Linked DNA regions of Homo sapiens. The protein of the gene in region 1 purifies or fractionates together with the protein of each later gene. This does not show direct contact. Each region holds a gene or a part of one and is shown in the gene's direction. Other genes may lie near its edges.

Region 1 (5,173 bases):
GTAATAAGTCTGCATCTCATACTTTAAAAAATGAATACATGGGCCGGGTGGGGTGGCTCATGCTTGTAATCCCAGCACTTTGGGAGGCAGAGGTGGGTAGATCACCTGAGGTCAGGAGTTCGTGACCAGCCTGGCCAAAATGGTGAAACCCTGTCTTTACTAAAAATACAAAAATTAGCTGGGCATGGTGGTGGGCGCCTGTAATCCCAGCTACTTGGGAGGCTGAGGCAGGAAAGTTGCTTGAACCCAGGAGGCGGAGGTTGCAGTGAGCCAAGACCATGCCATTGCACTCCAGCCTGGGCAACAAGAGCAAAACTCAAAACTCCATTTCAAAAAAAAAAAAAAAAAGAAGAATACATGAATAAATATAATTTTAAAAAAGTGAACCTTTGTTAAAATGTGATAAAGTAATATATGTTAAAAGAGTTATTTATATTAGCCATCATAGAAGTGCAAATTAAAACCATGGTGAGATACCAGTACACGTTTAACAAAATGGCTCAAATAAAAAAATTTGGACAATACCAAATGTTGGGGAAAATAAAGAAAAACTGAATAATTCATACATTGCTGGTGGGAATGTAAAATAGTACAGCCACTCTGGAAAACAGTTTGGCAATATTTTACAAAGTTAAACATATACTTATCATATAACCAGGCAATCACACTCCTGAAAATTTATCCTAGAGAAATGAAAACTTAATGTTTATGCAAACATTTGTACACAAATATTTCTTGGAGCTTTATCTTAACAACCAAAAACTGGAAACAACCCAAATGCCCTTTACAAAATAAATGGATAAGCAGACTGTGGGACATCCATACATGAAATACTACTCAGTAATAAGGAGGGAGCTATGGATACACCCAGCAACTTAGATGGATCTCAAAGTCATGCTCAATGGGAAAAGCCAATCTCAAAAGGTTAAATACTGTATAGTTCTATTTATATAAGTTTCTCGAAATAGTAATAATAATAATATGGGGAACAGAGCAGAGGTTAGGGAGAGAGAAGGAAATAAAGGATAGCAACGCACTGACATTCCTTTGCAGTGACAGAATGGTCTGTATCTTTTTTTTTTTTTTAATCCATCAAGTCCTTTTTTTTTTCTTTTTGAGACAGGGTCTCACTCTGTCATCCAGGCTGGAGTGCAGTGGTGCGATCTCGGCTTACTGCAACCTCTGCCTCCTGGGTTCAAGCCATTCTGCTGCCTCAGCCTCTGGAGTAGCCAGGACTACAGGTGTGCACCACCACGCCTGGCTAATTTTTTTGTCTTTTTAGTAGACATGGGTTTTGCCATGTTAGCCAGGCTGGTCATGAACTCCTACCTCAAGTGATCCACCTCCCAAAGTGCTGGGATGACAGGCATGAGCCACGGCGCCCAGGGATTACACTTCAACATGAGATTTGGGCGGGGACAAATTTCCAAACTATATCTCACACACACACACTGAAAAATATGAGTACAGGCAAAATCTGGTGAAATCTTTTTCTTTTTCTTTTTTTTTTTTTTTTTTTTTTTGAGACAGAGCTGGTGCCTCGGCTGCCTGAGTAGCTGGGATTACAGGTGCTGCCACCATACCTGGCTAATTTTTTTGTCTCCACACCCAGGGATTACATTTCAACATGAGATTTGGGTGGGGACAAGTTTCCAAACTATATCACACACACACACACTGAAAAATATGAGTACAGGCAAAACCTAGTGAAATCTTTTTTCAAGCAATTCTCCTGCCTCAGCCTGCCAAGTAGGTGGGATAGCAGGCAGGTGTGCACCACCACGTCTGACTCATTTTTGTATTTTTAGTAGAGACAGGGTTTCACCATGTTGGCCATGCTGGTCTTGAACTCTGGGCCTCAAGTAATCTACCTGCCTTGGCCTCCTCTCAAAGTGCTGGGATTACAGGAGTGAGCCACCGCTCCTGGCCAACGTTCATAATTGTTGACCTGGTAATTGCCATTTCTGGTCATTTCTCCTAAGGAACTAATCCCCTAAAAGGTAAACACTATAGTTATTCTCATTTGTGATAGTAAAATATCCATATACAAACAAGTATTCCAAGAGGTAGGCAAACTAATTAAGTAAATTATGGTACATGTATTAATTGTAATATTGTTTAAATAATAAATTGATGAATATGAAACAAATAGTTATATTGTTATGTATGCATATGAGCAAGAAATGCATATGAAGACATGTAATTTTATTTGCTTAATGTTGCTTTCATGTTTATGCAATTTTATAACATAATACTGAGGTATGGCTAATGGATGAATAAAGTTGACAGTTTATTTTTGAATGGTTACCTGTTGTTGTTTTTTGTTGTTATTGTTTGTTTTGTTTTGTCTTGTTTTTTGAGACAGAGTTTTGCTCTTGTTGCCCAGGCTGGTGTGCAATGGCAAGATCTCGGCTCACTGAAACCTCCGCCTCCCAGATTAAAGTGATTCTCCTGCCTCAGCCTCCTGAGTGGCTGGCATTACAGGCATCTGCCACTGCGCCCAGCTAATTTTTGTATTTTTAGTAGAGACAGGGTTTCACCATCTTGGCCTGGCTGGTCTTGAACTCCTGACCTCGTGATCCACCCGCCTCAACCTCCCAAAATGTTGGGATTATAGGTGTGAGCCACTGCACCCCGTCTTGTTTTGTTTTTTTGTGTGTCGGAGTCTTGCTCTGTCGCCAGGCTGGAGGGCAGTGGTGTGATCTTGGCTCACTGCAACCTCTGCCTCCGGGTTCAAGCAATTCTCCTGCCTCAGTCTCCCGAGTAGCTGGGACTATAGGCACGTACCACCACGCCCAGCTAATTTTTGTATTTTTAGTAGAGACGGCGTTTCACCATGTTGGCCAGGATGGTCTCCATCTCTTGACCTGGTGATCCGGCCGCCTCTGCCTCCCAAAGTACTGGGATTACAGGCGTAAGCCACCGCGCCCAGCCGTTGTTTTTAATTCTAACACTAATAACGATTTTAAATTCTTTCTTGAACCCCTGGTCTTGTTTGTTTCCAGTTCTGTCCACTTTGCCGTTTAATACCCGATGAGAATCCAAGCAGCTTCAGTGGCAGTTTAATAAGACATCTGCAAGTTAGTCACACTTTGTTTTATGATGATTTCATAGTAAGTATATTTTCTTATTTTTACATTATGTTTTCATGCTGTCTTGTTAAGCTTACCTTTCCGATCCAAGTGAATAAAATTATAGAGGAAAAAATGTGTATATAGCTATAGTGTTGAGTATTAGCATTAAGTAAGAAATCATGAAAATAGAATGTTTTGGCCTGGTGCAGTGGCTCACGCCTGTAATCCCAACACTTTGGGAGGCCGAGGTGGGCGAATCACTTGAGGTCAGGAGTTCAAGACCAGCCTGGCCAACATGGTGAAATCCTATCTCTATTAAAAATACTAAAAATAAAAAAATTAGCCAGGCATGGTGGTACACGCCTGTAGTCCCAGCTACTCGGTAGGCTGAGGCAGGAGAATCGCTTGAACCCAGGAGGCAGAGGTTTCAGTGAGCTGAGATCACACCACTCCACTCCAGCCTGGGCAACAGAGTGAGACTTTGTCTCAAAAAAAAAAAAAATGAAATGCAATTTCAAGATAAAATTTAATAACGATTGAAGATTGTCATTTGAGAATTTTCTCCATGCTTTCTATCTGCCAATTATTATTATCCAGGTTGGATACAAGGAGCTCAGGTTCTAAACTAGTTTTAAGCAATAGCTCTGTCATATATGTGCGACCTTGCAGAAGGTATTTAACCTCGGAAACTCAGTTTGTGCACTGGTTAAGGGAAGAGATTAAAAGCACCTACTCCCAAAATTCTTCTTAGGATTAAATGAGATAATGTATATAAAGTGCTTTGCACAGTTCAGGTGCAGATGTTAGGCAAATTGGAGATGGGATGGGAGTAGAATTGTTAGGACCACTTGAGGAACTGAACAAGGAACATGACAGAGGCTTTAAATTCTCAGCTCCATATCTCTAAGCATGTCTTTTGTGGCCCATATGGCACACAGGCCTCAACAGAACTTGGTTCTGGTCTATGTGTTCTCTCTGGTAATACAAAGAGGTTTCTCTTGGCCGGGCGTGGTGGCTCACACCTGTAATCCCAGCACTTTGGGAGGCCGAGATGGGCGGATCATGAGGTCAGGAGATCGTGACCATCCTGGCTAACACGGTGAAACCCTGTCTCTACTAAAAATACAAGAAAATTAGTTGGGCATGGTGGCGGGCGCCTGTGGTCCCAGCTACTCTGGAGGCTGAGGCAGGAGAATGGTGTGAACTCGGGAGGCGGAGCTTGCAGTGAACCGTGATCGCGCCACTGCACTCCAGCCTGGGTGACAGAGCGAGACTCCGTCTCAAGAGGTTTCTCTTTACCTTAGCTCTATGAGGTGTTCTAAAAGCCAGGTCGATTCTATGGCTGTTCTGTCTAATCATGCTCAGTCTGTTCTCAAGATCTTTCAGACAAAGCATGATCCAGAGCTAGGCAGGATGAAGCCACTTTGATAGGAATACTTTCCAGCCACTCACAGCCATATTCTTGGGTAGGGAAGTGAACTGGAAGTAGTGTTCTTTGTTTTGATTTTTTGCTTCCTGAGCTACTATATACTAAGCTAAGCACTATATGTATATATCACATTTTATTCCTTGTAGCAACTTCCGTGAAGTGAATACTGTATTTTTATCTTCATTTAACTGAAATATCTGAAGCTCAAAGGTTAACTGAATTATCTAAGAACAAGCCAGTATCAAGACCAAACCTTGTGTTCTGCTGTACTTTATGACTTTCCTTTGGATTTTGTGGGGGTTTTTTTGTTTTGTTTTTATATTGCAGAATGGACTTTGAATAGAGATTTCACCTTTTGTTATTGCGGAAGAGGAGAGGGATTGCAGAGGATAGGGTTCTTAATGGTTTTTGTTTTACTTATAGAATGTGCTGACATAGAATTTTGAATTCCACTTTGACACATAGGAGGCAAGGAGAAAGTTTTGTTTTTAACATTTTCTTCAGAAGTAGCCATTCAGTGGTACTGCTGGCATTGGTGAAGCCTGTGGGGGAGCCTGAACTTTGCTCCATTTTACAGGTTTATGTGGAACATAGCACTCTGACCAGGATTTGTAATGGTGACTAAAAACTTCTCATTATATCAGATAAAAACTTCAAATTTCAAATCAAG
Region 2 (4,336 bases), about 31 Mb from region 1:
AGTACCAAATGCAGCTTGACATTTAGTAAGTGCTCAAGAAATTCTCATCCCCTTGTTAGTGATTTATCAAGCTACCTTAATGTTTAGCTACATTTAGTGTCAGATTTCATCTTCGCTCATTGAGCAATCGCACCACACCAAATTTTTAGGCTTGTAGGGCACAGTCATCTGTAGTTAGATCTTTGTTGAATTATTTAAGAGGATAAACAGATGCAAATCTAGATTAAAGACATTCAAACAAGTTTATACTCTTCTCAGGTACCCAGAAGCCCAGTGAAATTTGAATATTATCCCCCAACAGTAACAGATGTGACACCTACTTCCAGGAAGCCAGGCAAGAACTCATCCTGTTCTGAATATGAATGGTATACCCTTTTGGAAAGGCTATGATGGGCAACATGAAGTAGTAATCAATGACATAAAATATTAAATAATTCACGTGTTAAAATTTTCCAAACTCTTGCAAATCATAACCAATGACTAGACTGGTTTTTAGAATTTTGTGGAAGAATTTAGAAAAAAAAATAATTATTTTCAAATGATCAAGGAGTAAAGAAAACTAACAGCACGTTTCTTTTCTATGCTTACTATTGATAATTCAGAAAAACTCTGGATGCTTAGTCATTAATTTCCACTGGTCAATATCTTATAAAACTTGTTTTATTTATACACTAGCTACATAAGTAGTTTATATTTTCCATAAAGGCCATCTCTCCATTTTAGAAAGTTTTCCTTTGAATTTCTCTACACCTAATGTATTTGTAGGGTCATGGTTCAGATAATATTGTTGTCTGACAACAAGTTAGAAAAGGAAGATAAAGGGCTCAGTAGGAGAACCAGGTCAGAGAGGGGTCCTCGTTTGTCCTTAAGACATGTCAGTTCCTGGAGTTTGACTCTTCCTAGCTTTCTCCTAGTTGCTCCACACTTTTTGCCCTATCCACTGACCCTCATGTTTACAGTCAGTAACATAACACGATTGTAGAGTGCTAGAACCAAAAGTAACATCAGAACATGCTTTGGCTAAGTTTAAAAAGTTTTGTGTTTTCAGTTGTAAAATATGTGTGTCAATAATCAAATAATAATTCTCATCCCTACCACACACCTACTGCAGGAAAGCAAAAACTTTGAAGTAGCTTAGAGCACATTTTGCAAATCCTATGTAATAACTTAGAAAGATTTTAGAATAATGCAAAAATTCAAATATAAGAAATCATCTAAGACAATGTGTATATGAAGTAAAATACATTTCTGCTTCATGGTCTTCTAGTATAGAAATTTGAATTGAAAAGTGTGAGCCAAGTATTGCTTTGAGGGCTCTATAAAATTGGAAAGAGCAAAGAAAATATAAGCATATTAAGTTAAATATTCAATGTAGTTAAAAGCATAGCATTTGTTTTAAAAATATATGCCACTCTTTTCTTTTCCCTTTAATCTATCAATGATGATTTTACTCTGGATTCCAAAATGGCACTGGAAAAGTTCCACAGAGGGAGGGGCAAAGTTGATATATTTCCATTCCCGACAGGGTGTGGAGGGAAGCTTACCTGACCAGCTGTTAGCAGCAACTCTGAGGGCAAGAAGGTAAATGCTCGAATTGCCTGATATAATTTTTAACAATGAACACTGAATTGGAAAACCATTTTAAAGGATAGAAACCCAGAGGAGATGTGATTGAAATAGAAGGATATACTTGTTTTTATTAAGTCAAATACTTAAAAAAAGTGAGTTAGTTTTATGATGTTTTGGATTTTCTGCAGATGTGGCAGTCATCACTGGGAGATATTAACAATGCTTGTCACCTCGCTCAGCCCCAACCACCTGGTCAGATGCCTGATGTATATGATTGATTTTTTTAAAATGTAGATGTTTGAATAACTTTTTAAACTTTCACATACTTGACATATTGTATTTTATCTTTTAATGAATTATTTCTGAAACATAAGATGGTATAATATTTAGAATATCTATATTTTAAACAATGTGAGTTAGATTTTTTTTTTTTGCACCATAAGTTGGAAAACACTTTCGATGGTATTGTTCACAAGTATTTCTTTGTTTTTAGATATTGGTTATTATTTAGTTTGCTGTAACCTGGTTTGAATATTTGTTCCAGCAGAATAGCATCTATTTGTGTAAAGTTTGAATTTCATTCTTGAGTTGTTAGTAGCTTTGTGGGAATTATAGAAATTATAAGACATGAAATATTTTTGGAGTATAAATATTTTTCTTCCTACTATATATAGGAAAAAACAGTTTTACTCAGAATATTTTGGGTTGTTAGAATGTCTATCTTGTCTAAACCTTTACATTTTTACTATAAGGGAAAATTGTAATAAATGAACTTTTTCTTATACAGTAAATGAATTTTTTTTATATTGCAGTAAGTGAACTTTTTCTTATATAGTAAAAAATTAATAAAAAGCTGATTCTCTTATGCAGAATCTCTGTTAATTACAGCTTCCTGCAGGATATATAAAGTTAATATGAAATGCTAAATAGTCTTCTAACATTTCAAACATTAGGATTATCTACAATGAAAAATGGGCAGATGACAGCAAATCAATCCATAAATATTATGAAGGGTTCTCATGTGCTACCATTGTGTTCTTCACGGATGGGTACAAGGATGAATTAAAAACACTGAACCTACCTTCAAGACAATTATGATTTGGAAGTAAAGACATCAGTATAAAAAATAATTACCTTACAGTGTGATAGAGGAGTTAAGGGAAACAAATGTTGTATGGTTATTGTATACAGTGGTGACTAATTAACTCTTTAGAGGGAGAGGTTGGAGGAAAGTGGAAGAAGGTTTTACGTGTGTAACAAAGCCAGAAGGAAAGAAAACAAGCAAAATAGATCATTTGTTGATACCTCAAACACCATAAAAATGGAAAAAAATACCTTTAAAAAATTAAAAATGTTACACATTTCAGATAGTCAGTATTTAAAAATGTATCTTCAAAGCTAACAATGTAAGTTAAAATCTTACAGGAAAGATTTTCTTTCTTGTAAAAAATTGAAAGTAGATGAGGTTTTAAAATTAAGTTGAAAATACATTACCCTCAAGGTTTTGAAGTGATAGAAGAGAGTGCCAGAAAATATTGACAATTTTCAGTAAATAAGAGTAAAAACAATTCTATAATAACAATAAAGAAAATAAAGGAAGGTAAAACAGGGGAAATTTTTTTAAAGAACAAGTTTGAAAAACATAAAATGTTTATATAATATGAAGAGTTCATAATGATCCATAAATAAATGATCAAGACCTCAATAGATAATTGAAAGATGAACAAGAGACAGTTAATATGTGAGAATTTATAAAGAGAAAAGAACACATGGAGAAACATTCAAATGTTAGCAAGTATCAATGCCATGTAAATTTAAAAATAATACAATTTTCTTTTTATTTTTTAAGTTATTAAGAATGGCAATAATATCTGAAAAAGGTGATTATGATATAGCAGTTTCATCTGTAACTTTTGGCTGACAGTATGAAAGTTAAAAATCTTTATAATATTTGACCTAGAAATCCCATGTTGAAGAAGATACTCTGAAGAAATAATATGAAGGGAGATAAAAGCTATATTTATGACAATGTTTATCGTAGAATTATTCATATTAATAAAAACTGGGAAGCTAATTTAAGTATCTAGCAATATGATGTTAGTTTAAACATTTAGATAAGTCAGTATAATGAGATATTATAAGGCCATTAAAAGAACATCTATGAAGACAGTATTAGGATAAACACTTAAGATGCAATTTGAAGTGAAAACAAGTGAACATAAAATGTTCATATAAACAGGCACGTACACACACATCAATGCAGTGATTGAGAGATTGGAAAGCACACGGAAAAATAAAGGCGATTTATTTTTCAGTATTGTGAGGGCAAAATTCCTCATTACTATTATTCTGCCATCTGTATAACAAATTAGACCTTGAGAATAAAATTCCTTCTTCTACTTCATTAGAAGTTAAATCGTGAATCCCTTACTTGGAAAATATTATAGGCAAAAATATGATAGTATTTGTATTGATATAAAATGAATTTTTTTCTTTTTCTTCTGACTAAGAACTGCTTATCTTCTCTTTCCTATATAGCTATGGTCAGTAGGAGGTGACATTGTGGATAGTACATGGGAGCTATCATGTAAGTCACTCCCAATTAGGCTACGATTGTTTGCAATCTATTTAGGATACATTTGCACAGATTTCAATGCAATTTGAGAAGGATTTTTTGAGTAATTTTTCAGTCTAGAGAAGCAACCCCCATAAAGATTGTAGGAATCTTTGGAGGACAAACTGGAGCTTGAGATGTGCCTTCCAGAGA

What was found. The genes of interacting proteins can lie anywhere in the genome.
Region 2: the proteins of RNF125 (region 1) and SERPINB12 purify together in Homo sapiens (affinity purification with mass spectrometry, with the first as the bait; one large-scale study listed by BioGRID). This does not show direct contact.

What each region holds. Positions count from the first base shown.
Region 1 is NC_000018.10:32,062,897-32,068,069, forward strand, and holds part of RNF125 (E3 ubiquitin-protein ligase RNF125), read left to right. Parts: intron 1-3,005; coding exon 3,006-3,113; intron 3,114-5,173. UniProt on the Homo sapiens protein: E3 ubiquitin-protein ligase that mediates ubiquitination and subsequent proteasomal degradation of target proteins, such as RIGI, MAVS/IPS1, IFIH1/MDA5, JAK1 and p53/TP53.
Region 2 is NC_000018.10:63,545,369-63,549,704, forward strand, and holds part of SERPINB12 (serpin B12), read left to right. Parts: intron 1-258; exon of another isoform or gene 259-362; coding exon of another isoform or gene 363-365; intron 366-1,532; exon of another isoform or gene 1,533-1,581; intron 1,582-4,135; exon of another isoform or gene 4,136-4,156; intron 4,157-4,336. UniProt on the Homo sapiens protein: Inhibits trypsin and plasmin, but not thrombin, coagulation factor Xa, or urokinase-type plasminogen activator. May play a role in cell differentiation.